Linked DNA regions of Homo sapiens. The protein of the gene in region 2 purifies or fractionates together with the protein of the main gene of each other region. This does not show direct contact. Each region holds a gene or a part of one and is shown on either strand. Other genes may lie near its edges. The genes, in order: STX12, VAMP4, NAPA and STX8.

The links.
Region 1: the proteins of VAMP4 (region 2) and STX12 purify together in Homo sapiens (affinity purification with mass spectrometry; 5 studies listed by BioGRID and IntAct, with this or other methods). This does not show direct contact.
Region 3: the proteins of VAMP4 (region 2) and NAPA purify together in Homo sapiens (affinity purification with mass spectrometry; 4 studies listed by BioGRID and IntAct, with this or other methods). This does not show direct contact.
Region 4: the proteins of VAMP4 (region 2) and STX8 purify together in Homo sapiens (co-immunoprecipitation; 4 studies listed by BioGRID and IntAct, with this or other methods). This does not show direct contact.

What each region holds. Positions count from the first base shown.
Region 1 is NC_000001.11:27,810,736-27,819,147, forward strand, and holds part of STX12 (syntaxin-12), read left to right. Parts: intron 1-1,427; coding exon 1,428-1,533; intron 1,534-7,115; coding exon 7,116-7,188; intron 7,189-8,412. UniProt on the Homo sapiens protein: SNARE promoting fusion of transport vesicles with target membranes. Together with SNARE STX6, promotes movement of vesicles from endosomes to the cell membrane, and may therefore function in the endocytic recycling pathway.
Region 2 is NC_000001.11:171,738,149-171,747,539, reverse strand, and holds the start of VAMP4 (vesicle-associated membrane protein 4), read left to right. Parts: upstream 1-5,474; 5' UTR 5,475-5,630; intron 5,631-9,076; 5' UTR 9,077-9,125; coding exon 9,126-9,191; intron 9,192-9,391. UniProt on the Homo sapiens protein: Involved in the pathway that functions to remove an inhibitor (probably synaptotagmin-4) of calcium-triggered exocytosis during the maturation of secretory granules.
Region 3 is NC_000019.10:47,486,094-47,491,366, reverse strand, and holds the end of NAPA (alpha-soluble NSF attachment protein), read left to right. Parts: intron 1-510; coding exon 511-579; intron 580-1,605; coding exon 1,606-1,656; intron 1,657-2,977; coding exon 2,978-3,079; 3' UTR 3,080-3,730; downstream 3,731-5,273. UniProt on the Homo sapiens protein: Required for vesicular transport between the endoplasmic reticulum and the Golgi apparatus. Together with GNA12 promotes CDH5 localization to plasma membrane.
Region 4 is NC_000017.11:9,572,358-9,580,865, reverse strand, and holds the start of STX8 (syntaxin-8), read left to right. Parts: upstream 1-5,045; 5' UTR 5,046-5,057; coding exon 5,058-5,074; intron 5,075-8,508. Other genes in the region: CFAP52 (cilia- and flagella-associated protein 52), read right to left, coding at 4,101-4,170. UniProt on the Homo sapiens protein: Vesicle trafficking protein that functions in the early secretory pathway, possibly by mediating retrograde transport from cis-Golgi membranes to the ER.

The DNA.
Region 1 (8,412 bases), about 140 Mb from region 2:
ACTTCTCCAAACTAATCACATGGAAGTGTATTTGTGGTATTAGTTCAGAACTTGATATGTTTTAGCATAGATACACATCCATCCCTCCCCACTACACTATGAGCACCTCAAAGGCTTGGGGACTCTGTCTTACTTAGTTTTGTATCTCTAGCACGAAGAGGACGTTATTTAAACATTGTAGGGGTGAAGTATGATTTATGATACTGATGGGAAAACACATAATAATGGAAAATTTCAAAGTGTTTTATATCTAGTATAATAAGTAATATGTTTTCCTTTTAAATGCTTGAAAATAAAGAGGCGTTGGGGCATGGTGGCTCAAGCCTGTAATCCCAGCACTTTGGGAGGCCGAGGCGGGTGGATCACCTGAGGTCAGGAGTTCGAGACCAGCCTGGCCAACATGGTGAAACCCCATCTCTACTAAAATACAAAAATGAGCTGAGTGTAGAGGCAGGTGCCTATAATCCCCACTACTCTCGAGGCTGAGGCAGGAGAATCTCTTGAACCCGGGGGGCGGAGTGAAGTAAGCGCCACTTCACTCCGGCCTGGATGAAAGAGCGAAACTCCGTCTCAAAAAAAAAAAAAAAAGCCAGGCATGGTGGCTCAAGCCTGTAATCACAGCACTTTGGCAGGTTGAGGCAGGAGGATAGCTTAAAGCCAGGAGTTTGAGACCAGCCTGGGCAACAAAGCAAGACCCCCATTTCTAAAAAGAATTTTTTAAAAAGTGTTATAACATTTCACTAGCTTTCTGTTAAGAGGGTTTTTTATGGATTGTTTTTTAATAGAGATGAGGGTTTTGCTATGTTAGCCAGGTTGGTCTTGAACTCCTGGCCTCAAGCAGTCCTCCTGCCTCGGCCTCCCAAAGTGCTAGGATTACAGGCATGAGCCACCGCGCCTGGCCTGTTAAGAGGTATTTAACCCAAAGCATAACCCCAAGGAAATTTTGGAAAACTAGGAGATGTGATTCTGTTGAACTAACTGGCAAAGCACTGATAGGTCACTTAGCTTGCTCTTCTCCACCCACTTAGTACTGAAGGTACTAATGCAGCTTGCACTTTGAGAGTGCCCTGGAAGATGATGGTGCAACATAATTCAATGAGTTCAAATCTCTGGCTACTTTCCTTGTCTGGCAAGCCCCAGTGAGATTACAGAGTATACCCCTAAATGGAAACAGCCAGGAGTCCCATCCGTCATAATTCTGCCACATGTCAGCTTTGCCCATGGAAGCTGAGTCTTTGTTTTCCTGATATCATCAGCTCTTTGCTTCTGGATATGAAGAATGTGGCCCTCCAAGACTTTATTGATAGCAGAGGACTGGAGCCCTGGTAATGTCTTTGCATAGGTTCTGCTGGCAGTAGAGATGTTGGAGATATGTCTTGTTATGCCTTTGAGAGGAGAAATCACCTAGTGTGCCTGTTTCCCTGCAGCCATGAGGAGTGGAACCAGATGCAGAGCCAGGAGGATGAGGTGGCCATCACTGAGCAGGATTTGGAACTTATTAAAGAAAGAGAAACGGCAATTCGGCAGCTGGAGGTGAGAGCCACGTCATGTTTTTTGTTTGACTCAGTGTGTCTGCAGGTATCTGAACTCCTTAGTTCACTTTAATTCTCTTAGTGATTATGAAAAGGCATAAAATGTGTCATTGTGTGATTTGTATTTTTTCTGTCTCAGTGTAATCATGGTGGGTTTGAACTACCGGTTTTTTTTGTTTTTTTTTTTATCTTGGATGGAATTTCGCTCTTGTTGCCCAGGCTGGAGTGCAGTGGTGTGATCTTGGCTCACTGCAACCTCTGCCTCCTGGGTTCGAGCGATTCTCCTGCCTCAGACTCTCGAGTAGCTGGGATTACAGGCATGTGCCACCACGCCCAGCTAATTTTGTATTTTTAGTAGAGACGGGGTTTCTCCATGTTGGTCAGGCTGGTCTTGAACTCACGACCTCAGGTGATCCACCCTCATCGGCCTCCCAAAGTGCTGGGATTACAGGCGTGAGTCACCGCTCCTGGCATGAACTACTGTTATAATGGCATTGGCCTTGGTGCCCAGGAGTACTCAAATCCTTTCCTCAATCACCACATCTTATACGGATCACCACATCTTATTTCTCCTGGAGAAATGTACATGGAGAACAGAACAAGGCAGACAGATATTTTATTGCTCATTAGAACTTTGACCTCAAATCTCAATGCCAACCTCCGGGTTAGGCAGGACTCCATGGAGAGCCCCTTTGCTTAGTCTGAAGAGCCCAGAATAAAGGCAGGCCAAAAGTCTTGCTCCATTTTTGTATATCCTAAAGTCTAATCCCAAGTTGTACATCTTATCCCTTCAGTGAGTCAGAGAAATAGGAACAGTTTTTGAGGTGGAGGTTGAGGGAGAAGTCTGTAGGCCTTTCTTACCTAACTGAGCTTTCAACTTTAATTTTGCACAGTGACTAATAAAATATCCTTTTTTTTTTTTTTCCGAGACTAAGTCTTGCTCTGTCGCCCAGGCAGGAGTGCAATGACACTATCTCAGCTTACTGCAGCCTCCCTCTCCTGGGTTCAAGTGATTCTCCTGCCTCAGCCTCCTGAATAGCCGAGACTACCAGTACGCACCACCACACTCGGCTAATTTTTGTATTTTTAGTAGAGACAGGGTTTTGCCATTTTGGCCAGGCTGGTCTTGAACTTCTGACCTCAAGTGATCTGCCTGCTTCAGCCTCCCAAAGTGCTGGGATTACTGGCATGAACCACTGTGCCCAGCTAAAATATCCTTAAACCTGAGTTTTCTCCAGTTTAGTTTTCTCCGAAGGTAGAAGGCTGCCATTGCTGGGATCAGGGGAGGAGAAAAGGAGAGAGGGAAATTTTGAGCTCTTCCTTGGCCTCCATCTGTAGCAGTGGTTCTGAACTGTGAGTGCACATGAGGATCACCTGGAGAAGATTTTTTTTTAATGCCCCAGCTCTCATCCACCACTAATTACCTGATGGGATAATGTGAAATTCCTGTTTATTATATGTTAAAAATGGGCAAATATCCATTATTTTATATGGTTCAAACTAATAAATCATAATTTCTGGGCGTGAGGCCCTGGGCATGGGTATTTTTTTAAAAAGTTCCCCCAGGTGATTATAATATGCAGCCAGGGTTGAGACCCACTGCCCTAAAGGCCATCAATGTCTGTTTTTATCTATTTATTATTTATTTTTTGAGTCAGAGTCTTACTCTGTCACCCAGGCAGGAGTGCAGTGGCGCGTTCTTGGCTCACTGCAACCTCCACTTCCTGGGTTCAAGCGATTCTCCTGCCTCAGCCTCCTGAGTAGCAAAGATTATAGGTGCCCGCCACCACTCCTGGCTAATTTTTGTATTTTTAGTAGAGACGAGGTTTTGCCATTTTGGCCAGGCTGGTCTTGTCTGTTTTTAGATGGGATAGTTTATCCTTAAGTTATGATTATTTTATTGCCTTCAAAAATGTCATATCTTTACTCTTTTTCACCTACTGCTACTACTAATTGAATTAATTGTCTAACATTAGAAATATGGCTAAGTGCAATGGCTCATGCCTGTAATCCCGGCAAGTTGGAGGCTGAGGCAGGATGATTGCTTGAGCCCAGGAATTCAAGACAGCCTGGGCAGTGTAGCAAGACCTTACCTCTACAAAAAATAAAAAATTAACCGGGTGCTGTAACATGTACCTGTGGTCCCAGCTACTCAGGAGCCTGAGGCAGAAGATCACTTGAGCCCAGGAGATCAAGGCTGCAGTGAGCCATGATCGTGCCACTGCAATCCAGCCTGGGCAACAGAGCAAGACTCTGTCTCAAATAATAATAATAATCCTTCCTTCAAAGAAAAATTACTAGCCGGGCGCGGTGGCTCATGCCTGTAATCCCAGCACTTTGGGAGGCTGAGGCGAGTGGCTCACCTGAGGTCTGGAGTTCAAGACCAGCCTGACCAACATGGTAAAACCCCGTGTCTACTAAAAACACAAAAAATTAGCCGGGTGTGGTGGTGCATGCCTGTAATTCCAGCTACTGGGGAGGCTGAGGCAGGAGAAGTGCTTGAACCTGGGAGGCGGAGGTTGCAGTGAGCAATTGCACTCCAGCCTGGCAACAGAGCGAGACTCTGTCTCAAAAAAAAAAAAAAAAATACAGTTGGCCCTCGATATATTTAGGTTTCACATCCTCAGACTCAAGCAACCGTGGAGTGAAAATATTTAAAAAAAACTAAAAAATAATACAACAATAAAAAATAATACAAATGTAAAAACCAATACAGTGTAACAGTATTTTATATAACACATTGTATTAGTTCAGTACATTACTAATACAATGTAAGTGCTATGTAAAATAGTAATGTAGTATAAAATAGTAATGTAACATTATATAAGTAATATAGAGATGATTTAGAATATAGGAGAGAATGGGCACAAGTTATATGCAAATACTATGCCATTTTATATCAGTGACTTAGAGGGAGGGAGTCCTGGAACCAATCCCCCACGGATACCAAGGGACGAATGTACCGTTATAGCAAAGTGGAGTGAGACATATGGAGCTAAGGAAAGAAATGTAATGGATGCCAGGGTATAATGGATCATTTCATATTCAACAGAGGAAAGTCCAAATTCCTTAGCCTAGGTTCAATTTTCGTATCTAGTAATTTCCAAACTCTGACATACACATTCTATGTTATGGCAAAGCTAGGTTATTTGCTCTTTAACTGAGTTGCCTTTCTGTTCATATGACCTCTCCTTTGCTTTAAGGCACAACTCATGTCTTACCTCTTCTGCAGAGTCTTCCTTTTCTCCACACCTTTCTATACCATTAATTCAGCCATTTCCTATATAGTACTCTTCCTTCTTATTTATTTTATTGTGCACTTATTCCCCACGTCCACCCCAGTTAGCTGTATTCACAGCAACTAGCAGACTACCCCAACTATGGTAGACTCTTAGCAAGTGATTGAAATGCTGACAAGACTTGCTTTAGCAGATAGTCCACTATAGTAGACTCTTAGCAAGTGATTGAAATGCTTGCCAGGTTATGATTCCAATAACCCTTCAAACCTGGAAGGGAATTGCCCTCAAATTTCCATAGGGTCATGCCCCATATGAGCACCCCTTTAATAAGACAGGTTTCCATTGTCTTTCTTCTGCCTGATCATGAGTCAGAAAAACTCAAATATAGGCCAGACGTGGTGGTTCACACCTGTAATCCCAGCACTTTGGGAGGCCGAGGCAGGCGGATCAGTTGAGGTCAGGAATTCGAGACCAGCCTGGCCAATGTGGTGAAACTCTGTCTCTACTAAAAATACAAAAATTAGGGCCGGGCACAGTACAAGCTCACGCCTGTAATCCCAGCACTTTGGGAGGCCAAAGTGGGTGGATCACCTGAGGTCAGGAGTTCGAGACCAGCCTGACCAACATGGTGAAACCCCATCTCTACTAAATATAAAGAATTAGCCAGGCATGGTGGTACATCCTGTAATCCCAGGTACCTGGGAGGCTGAGGCAGGAGAATTGCTTGAACCCAGGAGGCGGAAGTTGCAGTGAGCCGAGATTGCACCATTGCACTCCAGCCTAGCAACAAGAGTGAAACTCTACCTCAGAAAAAAAAAATAGCCGGGCGTGGTGGTGCACGACTGTAATCCCATCTACTGGGGAGGATGAGGCAGGAGAATCACTCAAACCCAGGGGATGGAGGTTGCAGGGAGTTGAGATTGTGCCACTGCACTCCAGCCTGGATGACAGAGCAAGACTCTGTCTCAAAAAAAACAAGTAATAAATAAAAATAAATAAAAAGAAAGAAGGGACGGAGGCTGGGCGCGGTGGATCATGCCTGTAATCCCAGCATTTTGGGAGGCCGAGGCAGGCGGATCAGGAAGGAAGGGAGGGAGGGAGGGATAGAGAGAGAAGGGAGGGAGGGAGGGAGGCCAGGCACAGTGACTCATGCCTGTAATCCCAGCACTTTGGGAGGCCAAGGCAGTGGATCACGATGTCAGGAGTTCAAGACCAGCCTGGCCAACATGGTGAAACCCCGTCTCTACTAAAAATAAAAAATTATCCGGGCGTGGTGGCATGGGCCTGTAATCCCAGCTACTCAGGAGGCTGAGGCAGGTGAATTGCTTGAATCCGGGAGGTGGAGGTTGCAGTGAGACGAGATTGTGCCACTGCACTCCAGCCTGGGTGACAGAGCAAGACTCTGTCTCAAAAAAAAAAGAAAGAGAAAGGAAGGAAAGAGAGAGGAGAAAGAAGGAAGGGAGGGAGGGAAAAAAGGAAGGAAGGGGAGGGAGGAAGGAAAGGAAAGGGAAGGGAGAGAGAGAGAAGGAAGGAAAGAGAGGGAGGGAGGAAGGAAGGAAGGAAAGAAGGAAGGAAAGAAAAGGAAGAAAAAAGAAAGGGAGGGAGAGAAGGAGGGAGGGAGGGAGAAAGACCCAAATATAGGGGATTTTGCCAATGTTAAATTCTTCCACTGCTGTTAGGAAAACAAGCTGCAGTTCAGCCCACTGAGCTGATTTGTGTTTACCTTCTTTGATCAGAGCAGTAAATAGGTTGTAGTCCATTCACTTTGGAACTGCTATCCACAGACCATCAGCTTTTTGTCAGTCAGTTGGGAGTTACCATAGGGCATTGTCCAGTGATGACAGAATCCAGCAACTCCTCACACAGTTCCAGAGTCAATCCCAGGGGAAAAGAGGCTCCTTACTTGTAGCTCCTCCTTGCATTCCTCAGATAGCATGATCTTGTATAAACATTTAAATTCTGTAGTCCAAAGTCCCAGTGGTTGTCATCGGGAGGCACTCAACAGGCTTTTGTCACAAGGCCTAGCAGTCTCCACATAGGGCTATCACACCAAGAATTTGTCTATATCAGCACTCCAGCCTTCTGCTGTACTGTTTGGACTTGGGCGCTCTTACTGGTTCTCATGTAGCATGTCCCATTAATGTTGCTTGAAGAGTGAGTTTATGTGCCTTCTGTTTTACAATATTGGGTAGGCAGCAATAGATTATTTTCTGTTTATGGAGAAAGCATGCTTTGTAGAGCCTTAAAAACACACGTGTTAATAGCTAAAACTTTAGGTACGTGAGGGAAACAAATCTTCTAACATGTTGCTTAATGTTAGTTAATTGTTTTTTGTCTTCCTTAGGCTGACATTTTGGATGTCAATCAGATATTTAAAGATTTGGCCATGATGATCCATGACCAGGGTGATCTGATTGGTATGTATTATTGATACCTTTAACCTCAAGGTGAGTTGATAGTATTTGGCATGCATCTGTAATCCCAGCTACTCAGAAGGCTGAGGCTGAAGCACCATCTAGGAGTTTGAAGCCAACCTGGGCAACATAATGAGAATTTGTCTCTTAAAAAAGAAAGAAAGAAAGAAAAAGGAGTTAGGCTAGGCGTGGTGGCTCAGGCCTGTAATCCCAGCACTTTGGGAAGCCCAAGCGGGCAGATCATGAGGTCAGGAGATGGAGACCATCCTGGCTCACACGGTGAAACCCGTCTCTACTAAAAATACAAAAAATTAGCTACGCCTGGTGGCATGCACCTGTAGTCCCAGCTACTCGGGAGGCTGAGGCAGGAGAATCCCTTGAACCCAGGAGGTGGAGGTTGCAGTGAGCCGAGATTGCGCCACTGTATTCCAGCCTGGGTGACAGAATGAGACTTCGTCTCAATTAAAAAAAAAAAAAAAATGGAGTTAGTCATATCAGCTATAGAGTTAAAGTATGTTTAGGAATGCCGTTTTAAAAATTACCAAATTTATTTTTCGTAGCAATTTTTTTATGTTATCAAATGTAGAAGTTAAATGAGGCCTCATGAATACTCAGTCCCATTGACTTCTTTGTACATCTTTGTTTAGAGAAATAGCTCTCAGCTTCCCAGCTTTTATCTCAACAAACTTGCAAAATTATGGGGTTAGTAACCCTTTTTTTTTTTTTGAGACGGAGTTTTGCTGTTGTTGCCCAGGCTGGAGTGCGATGGTGCGATCTTGGCTCACCACAACCTCCGCCTCCTGGGTTCAAACAATTCTGCTGCCTCAGCCTCCCGAGTAGCTGGGATTACAAGCATGTGCCACCACGCCCGCTAATTTTGTAGTTTTAGTAGAGACGGGGTTTCTCCATGTTGGTCAGGCTGGTCTTGAACTCTCGACCTCAGGTGATCTGCCCGCCTTGGCCTCCCAGGTGGTGGGATTACAGGCGTGAGCCACCACGCCTGGCCAGTAACTCTTTTTTTTAAAGCTTTCTATGTGGAAATAATTTCGAGTTTATTAAAAGTTGCAAAAATAGGCTGGGCATGGTTGCTCACGCTTGTAATCCCAGCACTTTGGGAGGCTGAGGTGGGAGGATCACTTGAAGCCAGGAGTTCAAGACTAGCCTAGGCAACATAGTAAGACCCTGTCTTTACCAAAAAATTAGCCAGGCATAGTAACATGCACCTGT
Region 2 (9,391 bases):
AAACTATAGTTGAACTTATCTTTAAAAACTAAATTCCTCTTGCTTTGTTACTCATTACTATTTTCTCTGTAGACTATACTCACATTGCAAAGGACATAACTGAGACGGCTGGCAAACTTTGATATGGATGCTTTGATAGAAAATAATATTGTATCAATGTTAAATTTTCTGAATTTGACAACTGAATTACAGTTATGAAGACAATGTTCTTGTTCTTAGGAGATATCTAATGAAGTATTTAGGGGTAAAGAGGCATGATAGCTATAACTAATTTTCAAATAATGCATGCCGAGGGGAGATATAAATTTAAAGAGAAGTAATAAAGCAAACTTAGTGAAATGTTAACAAACCACGTAAACTCTCTGGCACTCTGTTTCTTCATCTACCTGGAGACAAAAAGAGGGCTGAACTATTTTGTTTTTATTCACACTGTCATGAAATCCATTTAGGAGTTGAGGTCAGCATTAGAAAAGCGTTATTAATGAATCTGGATAGAGGATTTAAAAGCATTCAAAATCAAAACTAAAATAAACTAATATCATATTTATATAACACCAAGGCACTCTAAGCATGAAAAGCTTATGGTTAACTACATGATATCTGTATACTTCTTCTCCAAACTAATTGAGTTACATGCTTACAAGAGTCAATTTGCATTTGTACTCCAAAGTATTTATGCCTATTATACTTATAGAATATATTTAAATATGTAAACTAATGAAATACAAATAGAAAGTTATTTTCTATAAAAACTAAATTGATAAACATGAACAACAAACAAAAATTACTATAGAACTAGGCACAGGTAAGACAAACCTGTAAAACTTTGGAGAAAAAATTGTACAAAAATCTAGACTGACTGGGCATTCAAATTGCTTGAAAGGTGTCTTTAACTTCTTATTCCACTTTGAAGAAAATGAAACTGTAAACTGTAAACAATGCAACTTGTAACAAAGACAAAGCAGGTGTTCCAACCAGCAAATTCATGCTCAGATAAAAGGTCTTGGGCCTACTACCAAGACTGGTGAGTGAACATATACATTTGAGTCAAAATAAAATGACTAAAGTATATATTTGCCATTTTTAAATATGTACCACTGTAACTGACTTTTTAAATTAACTGGTCCAGTGGTCCCAATTTTAGGGGAAGAGAGTGCCTCTACCATTGTTTTAATTGAAAAACTGATATACATGGTAAAGATATTCCAATAGTACAAAACACTACACATCAAGAAAGTTTCCCTTCTGTATTAGTCTTCTAGGGCTGCTATAATGAAATACCATGGACTAGGTGGCTTAACTACAGAAATTTATTTTCTCACAGTCCTAGAGGCTAAAAGTCCAGGATCAAGGAGTCATCAGGGTTGGCTTATGGTGTGGCCTCTCTTTCTGGACTGCAAATGGCCATCTTCTGTGTTCTCATATGGCCTCTTCTCTGTGCCCATGCACTCAGACACTAGCCCTACAGGATTAGGGTTTTGCCTTTTTGATTTCATTTAACCTTAATTATTGTCCTAAAGGCCCTATCTCCAAATCTAGTCACACTGGAAGTTAAGACTTCAACATATGAATTTTGAGGGGACATAATTCAGTCCATAACACTTTCCATGCCAGATTCACAGTCCTCCTGGTGTGTGTGTGTGTGTGTGTGTGTGTGTGTGTGTGATGCTCAAATGGAAGTAGAGTCTACACACTATTTTGCACCTTACTTTTCTCACCTTATAGCATCATAGAGGTATTCCATGTCAGCACATATAGATCTATCTAGTTCATTTTAATGGCTGCATACTATTCTATTGAATGGCTAGACTATGACTCATTTCAGCAATTTCCTATTGCTGAACATTTAGAGTTTTTTTTTTCACTCTGTTACAAAAATCCTGTAACAGATATTTTTATAGAATACTTTTATATACAACCTGTATACCCATGGGATAAATTTTAGAAGTAAAATTATTAGATCAAAAAGAACTTCATATAAAATTTTGATACATATAATTACCATGAAATTTTTAAAAATGCACCAATTTTTATACTCTTACTGTTTAAGAATGCTTGTTCCTCCCACGCTGCTCCCATACCACACATACACACACCCAATATTGTAGTATCAAATTTTTTTTATTTTTGCTATTGAGCTAACACAAAAGATCAAACTGTCAAATCAGGCTCAAATCAGAGATTTTACTCAGTATCAAGCTTTACTAATAGTTTCAAGGATACCAGTAATCCCCAGGTCCTTTCTTCTTGCTTTGGATGCATCCTGGCCCAGGACAGTAGATGTGGTTTCTAAATCAAGTGTACAGTCACCCCACTTACACAGAAGGAGCCAAATCAGTTACAAAACACTTCCATTTTATGCTACGTTACATAACTTCCGCGGTATTTTCCAGTTAATCATACCCCTGAAATCCGCATTGATTCTTTTTTGTTTTGTGAGAGGGAGTCTCATTCTGTTGACCAGGATGGAGGGCGGTGGCGCGATCTCTGCTCACTGCAACCTCCGCATCTCCAGTGCAAGCTATTCTTCTGCCTCAGCCTCCTGAGTAGCTGGTGTTACAAGTGTACACCACCACACTCAGCTAATTTTTGTAGTTTTGGTAGAGACGGGGTTTTGCCATGTTGGCCAGGCTGGTAACTCCTGACCTCAAGTGATCCACCTGCCTCAGCCTCCCAAAGTGCTGGAATTACCACATCGATTCTTAATGTGTTTACCATAAACAATCCCAGCCCTGGGACATCCTGTTAGAGGAATTCCGTAAATATGGACTCTCTTGCTAGCAAATGCCATTAGTTTGTTTGCCAGGAGGTCTGTAATTAGTATATACTTTATATTTTATAAAAATCACATGCTTTTTTGCTTGCTTTAACCTTGCTTTCCTGAGAGTATTTCCCTACGAAGGGAGAGACTGGATTGCAGATCTTCTGCTCAACTCCTTCTTTCTCAGTCACTGATAGATGAAAAATGGTATTTCCTTGTTCACTTTTACATTTTAAGTAATGTTGAACATTTAGCAACAAAATATTGAAAGCTAGAAGGGAGATGAATCAAGATGCAATTGCCTTAGCAGACTTGAAAAGTAGGAATCCCAAGCAGGCCATGAAGCAACCTGATACACACAGTGAAACCCTGTATAAGGCTCAGGAATTGGAAACACCACGTAAAGCTGAAGAGAGCATGATGTGAGCTATAAATACAGGCGGAATGGTATAAAGTCTGTTTAAGAATGAATCAGATGCTGAGATTCCCTTTGCTATCCCATCAAAAACCCAGAGATTTAGTCCTGAAAGACAGCAAAACGCTGATTCTCTAGCTAGGAGGACAGCAGGCCCTCTTAAGGATGAAGGTGTCATGTTGAAAAAGGGGAAAAGAAAATTAGAGGACTAACATCTGAATAACTGAAGCTCACTAAAAAGAAAATGGAGGAAATAAGTAACTCAAGTTGCTTGGAGTTCTGACTCTAAGCTCAGTGCTATTATAATCTTTTAGGCTTACTGGTATATTTGATTCATGTTAACTGTAAAATGACATTTTCTAAGTTTCACAAATATTGGGGTTAGTCAAAGGGACTTTGTTCAGGTGATTAAGGGTGGGGCTTGCATTACCCCTCTCCTAAGCGATCATTCCAAAATGACTGGCAGGACTAAAGAATTATGTTTAAAAAACAAAAAAACCCAAAGAATGGATTATCTGTAAAAGCTATGCAATGACGTGCCTGTTAGAGCTCACTGACCACACCTTAAGTTGTCTAAGAGATGAGGCTATAACTAGCTAAACTCTAATTGGCTAAGGCACCAAAGCCAGAAAATAGCCCATAACATGCAAATATACAGACATAAAATCAACTGTAAGTGCTGGGCACAGCTGCTCATGCCTGTAATCCCAGCTACTTGGGAGGCAGAGGCAGGAAGATCACTTTAGCTCAGGAGTTCAGAGCTGCTGTGCGCTATGATTGTGTCACTGCACTCCAGCCTGGGGGAAGAAGTGAGACTTCATCTCAAAAAAAAAAAAAAGATCAGCTGTAGAAGAAAAAATAATGTCAGGGTTACCTGTGGAGTCTGGGGGTAGACCCACTATCACACCTAGACAGGGATACAAACCATGAGAGGCTTCTCTTCTAAGTGGGCCGTTTCAGTCCAAGTTGCTGACTTGGACAGCAACTTGGACTGAATAAACACAGGCAACTGAGTTTAGCATTAAGCTTTCAGAACCTTCAACTGACAACTCAACGGCTGTTTCTAAATCTCAGAACATTTAAATCAGAATCTAGGTAGCACGTGGGCACCTACGTAGTTTTAAAAGCTTTCCAAGTGATTCAACTCCAAGTGAATCAGAGTGGAGCATCGTTGCCTTAGTCATGGCATCTTTCAAATTCGTTAGTACATTTTTACATAAAAATAAACATCAAACAAAAGAAGAACAACTTTTTGGTAAGAGGGTGTCTATTCTTTCCTTTCCTTTAGTGTCCGCAGATCTTTCCTCCTGCTGTTTTCTTGTCTACTCTTGTTCTTGAACACCCCCTCTTATTTTTATGTCTTTAGAAAGTGCCTGGCACAGTATTTCAGACAGTTAAAATACTGTATCAACAAAGGACCCATAGATACTGTATTAATTTTAAAAGATGTGTAGTGAATATGATTCAATGAGTAAAATAATCCAGCTGGGGCGTGGGAGGAACGGATAATAAAACAAATAAGAGAACGGAAAAACAAAATTAGGAATTGTTTCTGGTAGACAGCTACTGCGGGCGTGGAGATCTAAACATGATACCAAATTGGGCGGAGGGGGAGGGAGTGAGGAAGGAATGGGCAGAGTGGCGGAATGGCCTGGCGAGGGCGATTTCCTGAAGGCTTTCAGGTTACAACTAAGGGATACCGGGAAAAGAACACCGAGCCCTCGTCCCGTATCTATCTAAACTAGCCGTGTTAACTTTAAGTCAATCTCCTCTCTGAACCAGATATTCCTCCTATCTAAAGGGAGGAGCCTGGCCTTAACATCTCTTTCCAAGTCTAGCTCTAATTCTGTAAACAGGGGATCAAACAGATCTCCTTTCTTCAGAAAAGGCCCCAGACGAACCCGAAGCAGGTCCTCGAGCTGCGAGCCACTCTCCACTTGCCACTCAACGTAGTCAGCCAGAGGGACGGATGTGCCACCAAGCACCACCTTCTTTCTAACGCCTCATCACCCCAGCCACGCACTCCGGCGCGGCGCCCAGTCCCGAGCGGTTCTCGGAAGTTTCCCACTCCTCCCCTAATCGCCCTCCACGCACGCCGGATCACGACCGGAACGTGGACAACCAGTGGTTGTTCCTCCCCTAAAGCACAGCATAAATTTGGAGAGATGCATCTAAACTGCGTGTGGGTTCGGGCTCTTTTAGGTGAATAGGGCTCGGCGGATCGACTTCCTCGATTATCTCCGTGCCCTGGACCCGCCCCCTCCGCCTGGCGCCAGGCCGCCGAGCGCCGATCGGCTCGATGAGCGGAGGCGCTGCTGCGGCGCTGCGGCCGACGCCGGGTCCGCACCAACTGTCTCCCCCTCCCAGCTTCTTACCTCGGCTTCCTACTCCTTCCCCCGCCCGCCCAGCACCGCCAGCCCGGGAGAGCTGCCGGGAGTTCCCCGGGAGCCTCAGGTACTGGCGCTGGCCTGTTCGCAGCGGGAGGGGCTGGTGTGAGGAGGAAGGAAACGAAGAAGACGCCCCTGCCTTGCCGCCCCCCGACGTCCTAGTCGGGCTGGTCGGCGGGCCTCGGGGATCTAGGAAGGGACCCCGGAGTGGGAAAAGGTTGGGGCCGGGGGTGCCGTGAGGAAGGAAGACGAGGACAGGGGTATGCGGACGAGGAGCAGTTGAGGGAGAGAAGAATTGGAATTGAGGGGTACTCTGGGGTGATGGGAAGAGAACAGTACCATGGATGGGGAAGGTTTGTTAAGAGTGGGATGTAGTGAGGAATTCCAGGGGGTACAATGGGGCAGGAAGGGCCAGCGTTAGGAGCAGATATATCGTGGGACGTGGCCTGGTGTGACAGATTGGGTGTGGGGGGTGAACGGAGCTGCCTGAAATTGTGTATTTAAAGGGCCCGGGGGAAAGAGCGCCAACCCTGCTGTGTTTATAATGACCGGAAGGTGGGGGTGAATCGTTACACTTGACAGGTTTTGCAAATAATATCTCCGGTCTGTGTCCATCCAAGTCACTTTATTTCTGTGAAACTGCATCAAGCAAGAAGGCTGATGACAGACAAGGAAGACGAATCAGAAAGAGAATGGAGGCTGGGAAAAGGAGAGCCTTTGCCCAGATTCAAAGCTATTGACTAGATAACGTACTACTTACAAAAACGCACACATAGACATTTAAGTATATGCTGATGTATAAGAAGCATACGGTGATGTGACTCATTTGAGTGAATTGTATAGTGGTGGTCTATCCTCAATGTGGAAGTACATGATGGCTCTCTTATTTACATGTATACCTAGTCACAAACAGCTGAATTCACATGTCTTTTTTTGTAGGAGAAATCTTAGGCAGACTATATCCTAGTCTACTTTCTGAGCATGATTTATTTCTACTAGTTGTTTGATACACATATCAGTTACTAATAATCAGTTGCAAATAACATCAAAGTTCATCAAGGTAGCTAATTAATCTGCCTACTGCTTTGCTGATGGGCTATTTGTTGCACATGGTTTCTTGGGATTAAGAGACCTGAATATGGTGTTTGCTCATCCTTAAGATTGTAGTTTTACTGTATGTCTTATAAAGGCATTATATAAGTCTGCCCGTTGTTTGCTTTGGGATGTTGAGGCAGCCTCATTGCAGGGGTTAAAATCTAAATACAGATAATAGTTAAAAGCACAAGTTCTTCAGTAATTTGCCTTGTCATCTGTTTTTCCATGCATTCTGTTACATTTCTGCATGAATGAAGTATTCTGACATCAAAGTATGAGGAATAAAAGGGCCAGATGTATGTGACAGAAATATTGTGGAACCAAGAACTCAAGAGCTGTTACTCAGGCAGCAAGAATTTGGTTTTTGTTACAAGTGAATAATTTCTGATTTGGAAGCATTTCTTATCAAAGAAAAGTGTGTCCTTTGGTTTTGACAAGCAGCTGACTTAAAACATTACTTTTATTTGGTTCGTGAAGCCAGATCCTGGGATTATTCTTTTTTAAGTGTATATCATTAACAAACAAACTGATGTCTAACTATACCTAATTTAAAGGTCTAAGTGTTTCTTCTTATGGAAAAGGAAGCAGGACTATTGGGTTGTTAGCAGGAAGTGAGTCTTTCTAGAACAGAATTCTGTAAACCTGATGGGCAACTAATTGAACAAATGATTAAAACTGATAATGCACAGCCATTGATTAATTTAGGCCTGTATCTCTGCTGTTTCAATGAATGTAGTGACTAACGTTATCGTTACTAAACTTTAGTTTTCTCCTAGTTTCTTGGTGCCTACTTTAAAGAAGCATCATAAAGAGTAAAAGAAAATGCATGTGTATCACTGAGCACCGTGCCTAGCACATAGTAAAACATTCAGTATTTCTGAGCTATCCTGAATTGATGGGTATTCATCTACCATCTAGTCAAAAATACTGAAAATTCATTATTTGCATAGAAGAACTTTTTCGCAAAAAAAAATTTTAGTATGTTGCATACACAAGCATTTTCCTGGAAAGTCACAATGCATATTAGCATATAACAGGATGTGAGTCATTCTGTAGCAAAGAAAACTAGCTTTGTTTAATCCAGTTGTTTTGATAGAAAAAAATTGAGTTTCTCCTATTCTCTCTCAACACAGACCCCCAAAAGATTTCTCCTCACAAGCAAGGAGGAAATTCTGCAGCAGATTCTCCAGCTGGGTGTCCTCTAATTCAATTCTGATACTGTATACCTAGAGATAGCATCAGATCCTGCAGGTTGAGGGCTTAATCCTACAAGATTCCCCCCACTTCAGGTGCCAATCACAAGTTCCAGGTTGTTTTACCTGTGTTTCCAACTGACTGGCTATAAATCAGAGTTCCCACAATCCCTTCCTTGTGTTCAGTTTATTTGCTAGAGTGGCTTACAGAATTAAGAGAAACACTTTGTTTACTGGTTTATTATAAAGGATAGAGATCAACAGCCAGATGGAAGAGGTGCATAGGGCAAGGGGTACAGAGCTTCTGTGCCCTCTCCAGGTGTGCCACCGTCCAGGAACTCTCTACTTGTTCAGCTTTTGGGAAGCTCTCTGAACCCTGTCCTTTTTGGGTTTTATGGAGTCTTCCTTAGTAGGCATGATTGATTACATCATTGGCTATTAGAAATCAGTTCAACCTTGAGCCCTCCTCCCCTTCCAGGAAGCTAGGGGGTGGGGCTGTAAAGTCCCAGTCTTCTAATCATGCCTAGGTTTTTCTGTGACCAGCCTCCATCTGGAATCTATCTGGGGGCTAAGCTACCAGTCATCTTATTAGCATACACAAGACACATCACTGCAGCGATTCCAAGGATATGTCAGGAAATGGGGATTAAGACCAAATGAGTATATTTTGTAAATCACGATATCACACCAGTACTTACCAAACTTACCCCTTTTCATGGAGTACCAATGGGACATTATAGTTTGCAGAATATTTTTGCATGTATTATCCAATTTGACCGTCCCAACTCTGCAGAAGCCTGAAAATCAGTATTTTACACCTGAGGAAACTGAATCATTGCTTAAGCAACCAACTAAAAGTGAGAGAAATAGGCATGTTCTCCTGTCTTCTGACTCCAACTTTAAATTGTAAAGCATTTAATGTCTCAGTGAGACGTCCTCCCTCTACTCTCTGCTCTTTCATTTTATAAAAATCTTAAATCACTCATATCCTACACATGTTCTCTTAGGGCAATTACATCCATTTTCTCATAATTTTAACTATTTCTTAGGTGTTGAGGTCTAGCATGGAGGCCCCAGTCACTGGAGTGGAACAAGTGAGAGGGCAGGAATTGAAGTCAGAAAAATGAGGGAGTCCCTGTCATACAGGGTTTCATGTACACTGTTTTAAGTACATTAGCTTATGCCCCAAAGTCTCAAATCTGATGAAATTTATTTTCTCTTTAAGGTGGTGACTATCCTGTTGAGAAGCAAAAGATACTTTGCAAGTAAAAAATATGCCTCCCAAGTTTAAGCGCCACCTCAATGATGATGATGTCACAGGTTCTGTGAAAAGTGAAAGGGTAAGTTCGGAATCTTAAGCTTTAAAAACAAAAGATTCAAAATATGTTTTCATTCCCTTTGTGAATAATAGAAGAAAAACCATCCGGGCGTGGTTGCTCATGCCTGCAATCGCCGCACTTGGGACGCTGAAGCAGAATAGCTTGAGCCCAGAAGTTCAAGACTGTCTTGGACAACCCAGGGAGACCCTGTCTCTATAAAT
Region 3 (5,273 bases), on a different chromosome or scaffold from region 2:
CAGAGCCCTGCCCTGCTGTGGGCACCGGTGGTGGGCAAAAGCTTGGGCTTTGTCAGACCAGGTTCCCATTCCCACCCCATGTCTCACCGTGCCCTGGGCAGGTCACTGCCCCTCTCTGGATCTGTTTCCTCACTTTGAAAAGGGGGCTCACCGTCATTTGACCCTCTCAGGGTCCTCAAGAAGCACCAGCCCCAGGCCTGGCATGGAGGATGTGCTCATTTGTCCCCTGCCCCAGCTGAGCCAGGTGGGAGGAGGCAGTGGGTGCCTATCTGGGGAACCTTCCCCCTCCACCCACCTCTCCCTGCAGCCATCTCTGCAGCCAGGCTGGTGCTGAGCTCAGCTACGGGAAGGTACTGACAGACACAGAGCCAGGTGACACCTGAGGCTGGGGGAGGGGTGCAAGAGCTGACTCAATATCACCCGACATCCCCAAGTCCCCTCAGCTGCTAGGCCAGTAGCTCTGAGGACCCTCTTGTTACTAACTCATCTTCTCCCTTCCCTGCTGCCCAGCTGGCTGTCCAAAAGTATGAGGAGCTGTTCCCAGCTTTCTCTGATTCCCGGGAATGCAAGTTGATGAAAGTAAGTGCTGGGTGCTCCGGCCTCCCCCTTCCCGAACCTCAGACGGGGGTGGCTGGGGCTCCAGGTGGGACAATCGCCAAGACTTGTCCAGTAGTTCTCAGAGGGTGTCTTTGTTTTGTTTTGTTTTGTTTTGTTTTGTTTGGCCATTTGAGTCTCCATTTTCCAGATGAAGAAAGTACAACTCGGGGAGTGCTGGAGCTCAGGATGGCTAGGTGGACACACACACACACACTACACACACCACACCACACCACACACACCAAACATACACTACACACACCACACCACACACATCACACCACACCACACACACCAAACATACACTACACACACCACACCACACACATCACACCACACCACACACATCACACCACACGCTACACACACACCACCCCACACACCCCACACACACTACACACACACCACACACAGCAAACACATCACACACCACACATATCGCACACACACTACACACACACGACACACCCCTCACACAAAACACATTGCACAGTACACACACCACACGACACACCCCCCCACACACAAAACACACTGCACACACACCACACATGACACACCCCACACACACACATTGCACACACACTACACACACCACACACACCCCACACACACACCGAACACACCACACACGCAACTCAACACACACCAAACACCACACGTGCCCCTACACACCACACCCCAACACACACACCACACACACACACACCTCCACCACACACCACACCCAACACACACACCCCCCATACCCACACACACACACATTCTGTGTGATGTTCTATGTTGGTAAGGTTGCCCTGAGAGCAAGCCGTTTCTGATGAATAGGGCAGCAGGATCGCAACACGCCCGTACCCATCCCCAGTTTAACCCACACGGATTGACCCTCTGAGAGTCCTCAGGAAGCCCCAGCCCCAGGCCTGGCATACAGATAGCGTGTCCTTTCATCTAATCCAGGCCAGACCTCAGGTCAGCATAGGCCCCTGACCCCTCTCTGCCATTTGCTTGCAGAAATTGCTAGAGGCCCACGAGGAGCAGAATGTGGACAGCTACACCGAGTCGGTGAGTGGCCAGCATGGGGGGCCAGGCCCCTTCACGGGGATGGGTCTCCTAGGAAAGCTGCCCTTCTCAGACACGCTCTCCATGACATTCACCCATTTCATCTGGCCCCCAGCCCACTGTGAAGTTCTTTCTCCAGTCACCCCAGAAACCTTACAAGTAGCGCCAAGAGGCGCAGGGAGTGTTCTCCCCATTTTATAGATGGTGGCACTGAGGTTGGGGAGGTCAGGAGGCTCGGCCTTGGCCCCTCAGGGACAGAGCTGGTGTTCAGAGCCACATCTGTCTGCCTCTGAAGACCAGGGTTCCTTGAGTCCCCCAGGTGAGTGTGTGAGACTCACAGTGGGCGCCTTGGGCACCCAGGAGGCACAGACGGGGAGGGAAGGGGTGAGAAGGAGAGTGGAGCTGAGGACATGGGAGAGGTGCCAGCTTCCCTCTGCCTGGTGGAGCCGCCCACGCGGCTCTCTCTCCCTTCCCTTTCTCTGTTCCCAGCATTCCCGGGCTTAGTGGTGTCCGGCTCAGGTCCTGATTCACTCCTCTAATGGCACATGTCAAGCATTTCTCCCTAGGTGCCCCTTGGGAATGGAAGCCCCTAACTGAGGACAGTGAAAATGCCATCCTGTTCCTCCTGCCCCAGACAGTGGGTGGCAACTCAGCCAGGAGCTCAGGGAGGGGATGCCCAGCAGGCCGTGGCTTCTCTCCCCCGTGTCCCATGGCACTCAGGAGTGGCCTTTTCCATATCTCCAGGCCTCAGTTTCCCACCCATTCAGTGAGGATGCTGGACTTTTTTTTTTTTTTTTGAGACGGAGTCTCGCTCTGTCGCCCAGGCTGGAGTGCAGTGGCGTGATCTCGGCTCACTGCAAGCCCCGCCTCCCGGGTTCACGCCATTCTCCTGCCTCAGCCTCCCGAGTAGCTGGGACTACAGGCGCCCACCACCACGCCTGGCTAATTTTTTGTATTTTTAGTAGAGACGGGGTTTCACTGTTAGCCAGGATGGTCTCAATCTCCTGACCTCGTGATCCGCCCGCCTCAGCCTCCCAAAGTGCTGGTATTACAGGCGTGAGCTACTGCGCCCAGCCATGGACCTTTTTTTTTTTTTAAAGCTACAATATCTTTCTCCCCCAAGGGAAATGATGTGCCCAGCATAGTCAAGACAGACAAGAGGGAGCTCCCATGGCTGAGTTGGGGCCTCAAGCCCTCCCTCTACTCCTCCTCAGAGACCAGGGGTGACAGAGACAGATCTTGAAAACCTTGGGACAAGTGCCCTTGGGCTGCAGGGTTGGGAACGGGGGGAGCATGGCCAGCCTATCACCTGGTGTGCCCTCAGGTGAAGGAATACGACTCCATCTCCCGGCTGGACCAGTGGCTCACCACCATGCTGCTGCGCATCAAGAAGACCATCCAGGGCGATGAGGAGGACCTGCGCTAAGCCCCACCCAGCCCCCCAGTGCCCGTCTTCCTGTCCCATCTGCTCAGAGAGAGGTGGGGCCGAGACTTGCTGGAGAGCTTCCCTCCTTTCCCATCTGGGGAGTGCCGCGGGCCACAGTGGGCAGGTGGCACCGGGGGTCAGCATGCAGGGGCGCCAGAGGCCCAGGCTGCTGGCCGGACAGTCACCCTCTGTTCTCGCTACATCCCTTGCCCCCTGTCCATTTATTTAAGCCCCCATAGGTGCCCTTCACCCCCAAAACCAGCTGTACAGAATCTTTGATACAGACCTATTTGCTAGGGGTGCTGCCGGGGATTTGGGGTCAGCATCTGGCCCCCTATCTCCTGACCAGCTGAGTCATGAGGCCGGTTTCTCTCTCTCTCCCACTTTTGTCCCCCAGCCAAGCTCTAAAGCACATGTAGCCGCTGAGACCTGCTGTTTCTGCTGGGGGCAGGCTCCTCTTCCCCCAGCCCCGGGAGCCTCCCCCAGCTTCCTGCAGCCCCGACCTCTCAGGTTAGACCCTGGGCCCTGGAGCTTAGGGGATTCTCCCCACCCCAGCCCCACACCTGCTCCTTCCCTAATGCTTTGAGGTTTTCTTGGTTGGAAGCTGCAGCTGGCCCAAGAAAGAAAATAAAAAACAACACTTTTGCATGAGTCTCTCTTCCTCCTCACCTCTGCTACCCACTCTGCCCCTGGGCCAGTCACCAGTCCCTCTCACACTCCTGGTCCCCCAGACTCTGGGCGAGCTCTTGGGAGGTCAGGCGCATGCATCCTTGAAACACGTGTGGGCTGGGTCAGTTTCTAGGTGGGGGAGACCCAGGGACGGTGGGCCTGGGGAGGAGCTCTGGCTTGGGAGTCCCAGAGCGCCCATCTTGATCTTTCTCTGGGTTCTTGGGGTCCAGGGGCCTTGATTTCCTCAACTGGGATGCACGGTGGTGATGCCACCCCTCAGAGCCAGTGGGAGGGTCGAATGTGACGGTCCTCATGACTGCTTTGGATGAGAATGGGTGGAAGCCCACCGAATCTCCCATGTCCACATTTCTCTGGCAGGAAGGCTGAACGCCCCGGTGACAGTTGTTCCATCTGTCACAGGACGGGGGAGGAAGCGGCTTTGGTGGGCAGAGTCTGAGGCCCGAGTGGGTCTGGGGAGTGGGGGAGGAGATAGCAGGAGCCTTTGCCCAGGAAAGGTGGGCAGAAACCAGCTGCCTCCACCACACTCCACAATGTGCATGTTGGGGGCCCTGTCTGGTACACATGTGCTTTACCCTGCCCCGCGCAGGGCCCCTCGCTACAGAGGAGACAGCTGAAGGAGGCTCAGTGCCCAGGCATGATGGGAAAATGTCAGGAAGTGAGCAGGGGCAGTAATTGCACAGAGGAGGGGCTGCCTAGGAAACCAGGGTGGACTCCTGGGAGAGGGGCTCCAGCCCAGAAAGCCTAGAGAAGTGCAGGTGAGGTTCAAATTCCTTGACACCTGCCCTGCTCCTCTCTCCCCTGCAGCTTCTCCCACAGCTCCAGTCCACTGATAATGGCAGCAAAGACTTCTGAGACCTGAAATTGATTACCATGTCTGCCCCCATCATGGGTGCTGGCTGAAGGATAGTGTGAGAATCTGTTTCTGTCATCCATGACCTAAATCAGTGATGGTCCGCCCTGGCTATGCTTTAAAGTCATTAAAAGTATCCAGACTTGGGGCTGGGTGCTGTGGCTCATGCCTGTAATCGTAGCACTTTGGGAGGCCGAGGCAGGCGGATCACTTGAGGTCAAGAGTTCGAGAGCAGCCTAGCCAACATGGCAAAACCCTGTCTCTGCTAGAAATACAAAAATTAGGCATGATGGTGCAAAAATAAAAGTATCCAGACTGGGGCCGCACTCTGATAAATTGTGGTTTGACTGAGGTTTCCTACCCTTTGGGGGTTTTTGGGTTTGTTTTTTTTTTGAGACAGAGTCTCGCTCTATCGCCCAGGCTGGAGTGCAGTGGTGCGATCTTGGTTCACTGCAACCTCTGCCTCCCGGGTTCAAGCGATTCTCCTGCCTCAGTCTCCCGAGTAGCTGGGATTACAAGCGTGCGCCACCACGCCCAGCTAATTTTTGTATTTTTAGCAGAGACAGCGTTTCACCATGTTGGCCAGGCTGGTCTCAAACTCCTGACCTCAGTTGATCCGCCTGCCTCAGCTTCCAAAGTTCTGGAATTACAGGC
Region 4 (8,508 bases), on a different chromosome or scaffold from region 2:
AATAGATACTATAAAACTGGCCTTCAACAAGGTTGTAAAATTAATACCGGCAGTAGTAATTGAGAACCATTTCTTATTCTCACCTTATTATATTACCCTTTTTTTTTCTTTTTTTGCCTTTGCCAGTTTGAGAAGCAAAAACCATCACTGCTTTAACAGCATTTTTTTTTTTTTTTTGAGACCAGGTCTCACTCTGTTGCCCAGGCAGGAGTGCAGTGGTACAGTGATGGCTCACTGCAGCCTCTACCTCCCGGGCTCAGGTGATCCTCCCACCTCAGCCTCTCGAATAGCTGGGACTACAGGCATGCATCGCCATGCCTGGCTATTTTTTGGTATTTTTTATAGAGATAGGGTTTCACCATGTTGCCCAGGCTGGTCTCAAACTCCTGGCCTCAAGGAATCTTCCTGCCTCAACCTCCCAAAGTGCTGGGATTACAGGTGTGAGCCACCGCACATGAACTTTAATAGCATTTTTAAGCTTTTTGAGCTAATAGCCATTTATATTTATTTACCTATTTACAGGGTCTGGCTTTTTTTTTTTTTTTTTAAGAAAGGTCCAGAGAGTAAATATTTTAGGCTTTGTGGGCAATATGGTCTCTTGAGACTACTCATCTCTGCTAGTGTGGTATAAAAGCAGCCATAGACAATACATAAACAAATGGGCATAGCTACATTCCAATAAAACTTTATTTACAAAAACAGGCAGTGGGCCAGATTTGGCCCATGGGCTATAGTTTGTAGACTCCTGATCTATTTTGTTGTTGTTGCTGTTTTTAGTTTACAAGAACTCTTTGTATACCATAATAGGAAAATCATGGGCTACCTACTCCAGTCAATGGATGAATGTGACCAAACCCTTAATAACTATAACTTTATTAAATGTTTTTAACACAAGTATATTTGGTTTGCTTAAATAATTAATTCCTGCCAAAATGCAATACCTACAAGTGTCAAGTACAGTTACATATTGATACCATAAAGTTAAAATTCAAGTTTAAGGCCAGTCGCAGTGGCTCACGCCTGTAATCCCAGCACTTTGGGAGGCCGAGGCGGGTGGATCACCTGAGGTCAGGAGTTCAAGACCAGCCTGGCCAACGTGGCGAAACACCGTGTCTATTAAAAATACAAAAATTAGCCAGGCGTGGTGGTGGATACCTGTAATCCCAGCTACTTGGGAGGCTGAGGCAGGAGAATCACTTGAACCCATGAGGCAGAGGTTGCAGTGAGCTGAGATCGCACCACTGCACTCCAGCCTGGGAGACAGGGTGAGACTCCATCTCAAAAACAAAATTCAAGTTGAATAATGTAACACTATAGTGAGTTTCAGTGTTGCAGTGAAAAAAGGGGCCTTGCTTTTGTTTCTAATTTGTTTCCATCTGAAATCTAAACTCAATCACTTGGCATTTAAGGCCTCTGAAATCTAATTCCAGCTTCTCTTTCCTGTGTTATCCTGCCAGTCCCTGATACTGAAGCCACCCCAAGCTATTTGCCGTTCTGCAACCAGGCCCTGCACTCTCCACTTTTCCTCCTCTGCCCCCCGCTATTGCTGTAACCCGAAATATTCTGCCTTCAATCTTTACCCGCTGACTCCTAGTCAAAATCTTCTCTCCCGAGCCTTATGAAAGTTCTGTCTTTTCTCTCTCTCCCTCTTTTTTTTAGAGCTAGTATAGTTTTTTAAAATAAACATTTTTCAGTGAAGACAAAATACAGAAAACTCAATCACTTTTGTAAACTAAAAATAAAATCATAAGCTCCCCAATCCCCACGCTGCCCCACCCCAGCCACTGACTGAACAGATCCCCTTTTGGACAAAGGGACCCCCAAAACACCTTAAAGCAGAGTTCCCAGCCTTGACGGAATGGGAGGTCAGACATGCCTCATTATACCCCCTCTCTTTTGTGGTTTAGACACAACTGATCAGCATTAATGTTAAAATAGAGATCATAAGATTGACAGACTGTGTGGCAATAAGATATCAAATTATAAACAGGACCTAAGGCCATGCACCCCTCCACCCTGTGGCTGGGTGTGGTGGCTCAAGCCTGTAATCCCAGCACTTTGGGAGGCCAAGGCGGGTGGATCACCTGAGGTCAGGAATTGGAGACTAGTCTGGCCAACTTGGTGAAACCCCGTCTCTACTAAGAATACAAAAATTAGCCAGGCGTGGTGGTGGGTGCTTATAATCCCAGCTACTCTGGAGGCTGAGGCAGGAGAATAGCTTGAATCCAGGAGGTGGAGGTTGCAGTGAGCCGAGATTGTGCCATTACACAACAGAGCGAGACTCCACCGTCTCAAAATAAATAAATAAAATAAACTATACACTGCCACAAGGTTTTTCTTTTTCTCTGGCAGCTAAACAAGCACTTATCTTGAGATAAGCAATATGAAAACAACTGCAACCTGTCCAGTTCATAGGCACTTACTAACTGAAGCCCTGTTCAACCCGCCATAAGAACAATTTTGATTGGACAACAGAGTGATTTCAGTAATGTTCTCCTGGCAAGAAGACCACTCACCACGGACTACCTCTGGCCAGTTTACTGAGGCTTCCCACTTAACGTGCCGTCATGTCCTGAAAAGGCCTTTTGACATATAGGACCTAATTGTAATACATTTAAATGTTAGGTCTCCATCCCAAGGTGAATATGAGTGATATATTACATCAATGTTTGTTCAATACACATGTGTTGGGACCACCTTCATGAGTATTCATAGCTCCTCCTATAACCTGTTGAATATGTATGTTTGTTTGTTTATTTATTTATTTATTTTTTGAGACGGAGTCTCGCTCTGTCCCCCAGGCTGGAGTGCAGTGGCGTGACCTTGGCTCACTGCAACCTCTGCCTCCCAAGTTCAAGTGATTCTCCTCCCTCAGCCTCTCAAGTAGCTGGGATTACAGGCACCTACCACCACGCCCGGATAATTTTTGTATTTTTAGTATAGATGGGATTTCACCATGTTGGACAGGATGGTCTCGAACTCCTGACCTCAGGTGATCTACCTGCCTTGGCCTCCCAAAGCGCTGGGATTACAGGCATGAGCCACTGCCCCCGGCCTCAGTTGCAGAGTTCTATGTGTGTGGTTCTACATTGGCTCAACAAGTGACATTATGCAACCCACTGTAGGCTGCTCAATTGTTTCTCAATGATCTTGTAACCAACTCTCAAGATATCTGATATCCGAAATGTATAAAGCACTCACTTTCTATTGGAGACTGTTAAAGTTAAACCAAGAGTCAAGAGCTAAGTCCTAGAGTATGCTTAAAACTTTAGACAGTGATTGTTCTGCATCCACATTCTTAAAGCTTTCAGGCATCACAACACACATTTTTGAAAAGTTTTGCTTCTCCTAAAATCTAATTCATTGTTTTCTCATCCCTCAAAAAACCAAAACCCCTCAAAACGAACAATAAAACCCCACAGCTTTTTCTTCCCAGAATCTTCAAAACAATAGGCAGTCACAAATAAGATTTCAGCGGAGCGGCCCAGTCCCTTTTTCTCTCCGCTTTAGCTCCCCCTGGCGTCCCCTTCCCCTTCTGTCCTGGTCTGAAATCCTCATCATTTAGAAACCTTCCTTAGGATTAGAGGACCAACAACATCCCCTCAGGGGGTTGCTCAAACACACGTTCCCTCCCAGCCCTTTCTCACTGGTACGCCAGTTGGGATTTTAGCAGATTTCCTAGCTGGTCCCAGGGGCCGACACAGACAGCATCCTTCTGTGTGGTTACGAAGGAGCCTAGGGCTTTGCGAGCGGCGTGGGGTTCAGAGCCAGGAAGGGCTGACCTAGTGGGAGAAGGGTTACAACCACCCGTACTCATCCGGCCCGCCTGGGGAAGAGGCATTTGGTCCCTTTTAGGTGCTGGCGCTTGTCCGAGCTGGTAAAAACCATCTCACTCCCTGAGGCTTGGATCGAGGAAGTGACTCTCCAAGGCCTTGGGGCAGGTCAGGCTGTGCGGGTCCTCCTGTGCGTGTCCCTGGCCAGGGCTCCTGCCGTTGTCCCACACTGCCTTTCAGGTGTCCCCGGTGTCTCACTATTCCTGTTTGCACTACACGTCCTCCGAATTCCTAAACCAGCCAGCCCAAAGATGCTGGAGGCCTCACCATTGAAGCCGATCACGGCGTCAAGTTCCAGCTCCGCCACTTGGGCCTCCGGCGAAATTTTGTTATCCATCCTTGGGAGGTTCTGATTACTTTGCTCTCCTCCCTAGTGGCTGCAGCGTCTTCTGGTCGTTATGGTAACGGACGAGCGCATGCGCTCCAGCTCCACGCCCGCGCAGAAACCCAGCCTGCCGAGTTCGAGTTCATTAGCATTCTTGGAAATGAAGGGGTATGGGGACTGGAAGAGAGATGGGGTGGGACTCCTCTTCTTTTTTTTTGTGCTATTTCTCTGGAAATTTAGGGGATGGCACTAACTGCGCAGAACTAATTCCTCCATCCCCTTGTGTAGAGTCTGTGACTTCTTAGTAACTCTAAAATCAAGCACCGAATGAATGGCATTTAAAAAATATGTAATCAGGCGTACAGGACTGATAGGAAGGCTGCTATAAAAAATATATATAATTGATACTTCTTTGGGCCCCTGTTTGGAGCAGTGTGAAAAAAATTTTAAAGATTTTTTAAAAAGCGTTGAGGTATAATTTACATATCATAAAGTTAACTTAAAGTAGGTTGTAGTGAGTTTACGCAGCGTGCAAGTCTCACCGCAATCTAGTGTTTTGTTTATTGTTTTGTTTTTGAAGCAGGATAAATTTTTAAGTAACTGCTACAGAGAGGTCTTGCAGCGCTCCCACCTTCCTGGGAAAATGCTTTGTTTCTATTTAACAATTTTAACTGAGCTTAGCAGTTCGCGTCTCTTGGTGGGAGTAGATTGCTCCAGTGTACTGTCCGCAGGGGAGCGCTTTGCTTTCTCTGATTATAGTTCTGAGGCCCTAGCTACTCACTTTGCAAACTCCAGGCTCCGGTCGCGCACGGGACGAACTGCGGGGAGTGAGCCGCGCGGGCCGCCGTAGTCAGCTGCTAAGAGCAGGAAGAGTCCGAGCGGCGGGCGGAGTCTGCAGGATGGCACCGGACCCCTGGTGAGTCCCGGGTGAGGGCGGCGGTGCGTGGAGGGACCTTCGGGGAGGCCGGGCTTCCGGAGAGCAGGCAATCACTTCGCATTGCCGCTGGTGGCCTTTCGGGATGAGGGGAGGGGCAGCGAGACCTTTCCTTTACTGAGGGGGCTCAGCCACATCCCGCCACACTTGGTCCTTGCAAGGGTGGCCCGGGAAGGAGACCAGGTGGTCCGCTGGAGAGCTGAGGACTTACGCCAAATCTCTGAATATTCCTTTAGCTTTTCTGGGCTGCATCTCGTTGCGGGGATTTCCCGCCCATCCTGGTTTTGGAGCTAGCTGGCTGGTGCAGGCTTCCCTGGACTCCTATAAAAGTGAAGTCGAAATAACGTTTTTGTAGCATGTCAGTCCATCCCGGTAAACCCCCTTATTTCACAGGTGGAGAAACCGAGGTTCAGAATCCATGGCCACCAGCCAGTTAGTAACCAGCTGGGGCTAAGACCTAGATCTTGGGGGCCCTTCCAGATACAGGAACCTGGGAGGGAAATTGTGCACTTGTTTATAAGGCATTTTGCACTTTCTTGAGTTAATATCATGAAGTCTTTTCCTTTAGCAGTAGCTTCTGCAGTAAAACAATAGCTGATAAGGGTGATTTATTTAGCAGTTAATCCCAAGGACTGCATGATGAAAGATGCAACTTTTGATCCCAAGGAACATATTGTTTGATCCCAAGGAACGTATTGTTATTGAACATAGACTTGACCTTTCTGCTTAATAATTAAAAACATATTACAGCTCTATAACGTTCTTGTTGGAATATGTGTCTTATGTTGTTATTTCTAATATAGTTTATAATTGTTTAAGTTGCCCACATCCTGGATATTAGAAGAATGGATTCCAAGAACAAAGTTGAGTTACCTGGAATCTAGGTTATTTGGGCCAATTATTTAATTTAGCATTTACTTTTTTAAACCTAATTTTAGGCCGGACGCGGTGGTGGCTCACGCCTGTAATCCCAGTACTTTGGGAGGCCGAGGCAGGCAGATCACCTGAGGTCGGGAGGTCGAGACCAGCCTGACCAACATGGAGAAACCCCGTCTCTACTAAAAATACAAAATTAGCCGGGCATGGTAGTACATGCCTGTAATCCCAGCTACTCGGGAGACTGAGGCAGGAGAATCGCTTGAACCCGGGAGGTGTAGGTTGTGGTGAGCTGAGATCGTGCCATTGCACTCCAGCCTGGGCAACACGAGCGAAACTCCGTCTCAAAAAAAAATAAAAAACCCCAAAATCCCTAATTTTAACAGTTATATACACCCCTTGATAGAGAATATTCAATTTAGAGAATATTGAAAATTTGCAAAAAGGAAAATAAATAGCATCTTTAACTCTATAATTTGGAAATAGCCATTAATGATTTTTTTACAATGAATTTGTTATTTTAATCTATATTTTTATATATATATATAATATAAACAGCATTTCTCTATGTCATTGGACATTCTTTGAAAGCATAACTTTCTTTTCTTCTTTTTTTTTTTTTTGAGACGGAGTCTTGCTCTGTCTGTCACCCAGGCTGGAGTGCAATGGCGCGATCATGGCTCACTGCAACCTCCACCTCCTGGGCTTAAGCAACTCTCCTGCCTCAGCCTCTGGAGTAGCTGGGACTACAGGCGCACGCAGCCACGCCCAGCTAATTTTTTGTATTTTAGTAGAGACAGGGTTTTACCGTGTTGCCTAGGCTGATCTTGAACTCCTGAGCTCAGGCAATCTGCCCGCCTTGGCCTCCCAAAGTGCTGGGATTACAGGTGTGAGCCACCGCACCTGGCCTCATAATTGTCTTATGTTGCAAAATAATGCATCACATGAATGACCATAATTTATTTTTCTCCTATTAGTTTTTTGTTTTTCTGATGTTTTGTTTTGTTTTATCATTGCAAAGGGAGTCCCTTTGTTCTATCTCTTATTTCCTTGGGCTCCCTGTCTAGAAGTAGGAATTAGAACTGTTGAAAGTGAAGCATTTATACTTTTTTTGTTATTCTCAATCAGTTTGACTAAGTGGCTTTCTCATTAGACTGTTGAAAGTGAAATAGAACTGTTGGGCTCAAGGGTATAAACATTTTTAAGGCCCTTGATACTGTGAACCCCAAAGTATCTGAGACAGGTCTCAGTCAATTTAGAAAGTTTATTTTGCCAAGGTTAAGAATGCACCCATGACACAGCCTCAGGAGGTTCTGAAGACCTGTGCCCAAGGTGGTTGGGGAACAGCTTGCTTTTATACAATTTAGGGAGAATAATACATGAATTAATACATGTAAGATTTATGATGGCTCAATCCAGAAGGGAGGGACACCTCGAAGGGCGTGGGGGGCTTCCAGGTCATAAGTAGATTGAAAAATTTTCTGATTGGCAATTGGTTGAGTTATTATCAATAGAAACGAATGTCTGGGTTATGATAAGGGGTAGTGGAGACCAAGATTTTATTATGCAAATGAAGCCTCTGGGTAGCAGGCTTTAGAGAGAATACATTGTAAGTGTTTCTTATCAGACTTAAGGTCTGTATTGACGTTAATGCTGGTTGGCTTTTCCTGAATTCCAAAAAGGAGGAGAGGATATATAATGAGGCATGTCTGATCCCCTCTTCCCATCATGGCCTGAACCAGTGTTTCAGGTTAACTTTGGAATGCCCTTGCCTTAGAGTAGGGGTCCGTTCAGATGGTTGCGGGGGTGGGGGGGGGTGTTGGGGGTGGGCTTAGAATTTTATTTTGGTTTACAATACATATTCCTAAGTTGCCCTCCACCTTCTGGAACCTAAATCCCTCAGTTTACAAATCAAGTAGGAAATAAAGGTCAAAGATAAGGGACAGGCCCCCAGTTATCTATTTAGATTGGTGGAAGCTATCACTGGACCCCAAGCTTCTTCCGCAGTTAATGTTGATAAAGCATTGAGACTTTTTCTGTTATACTTCATTAGTTTGATGAAGTGGCTTTCTCATTGGACTATTGAGAGTGAAACAGTGAGACACTCAGCTGTGCTCCCAAAGCACAAAATGGGTCGCTGATTAGGGGGGTAGAAAGGAGTATGGGAAGGGACTTGAAAAACCTATAAAAGGCCAGGTGTGGTGGCTCACACCTGTAATCCTAGCACTTTGGGAGGCTGAGGCAGGCGGATCATAAGGTCAGGAGTTCGAGACCAGCCTGACCAACATGGTGAAACCCCGTCTCTACTAAAAACGCAAAAATTAGCTGGGCATGTTGGTGTGTACCTGTAATCCCAGCTACTCAGGAGGCTGAGGCAGGAGAATCACTTGAACCCAGGAGGTGGAGGTTGCAGTGAGCCGAGATTGCGCCACTGCACTTCAGCCTGGGCGACAGAGCGAGACTCCATGTCAAAACAAAACAAAACAAACAAACAAAAACAACCTATAAAAACAGATTCAACTACAGCTTTACCTTTGTGT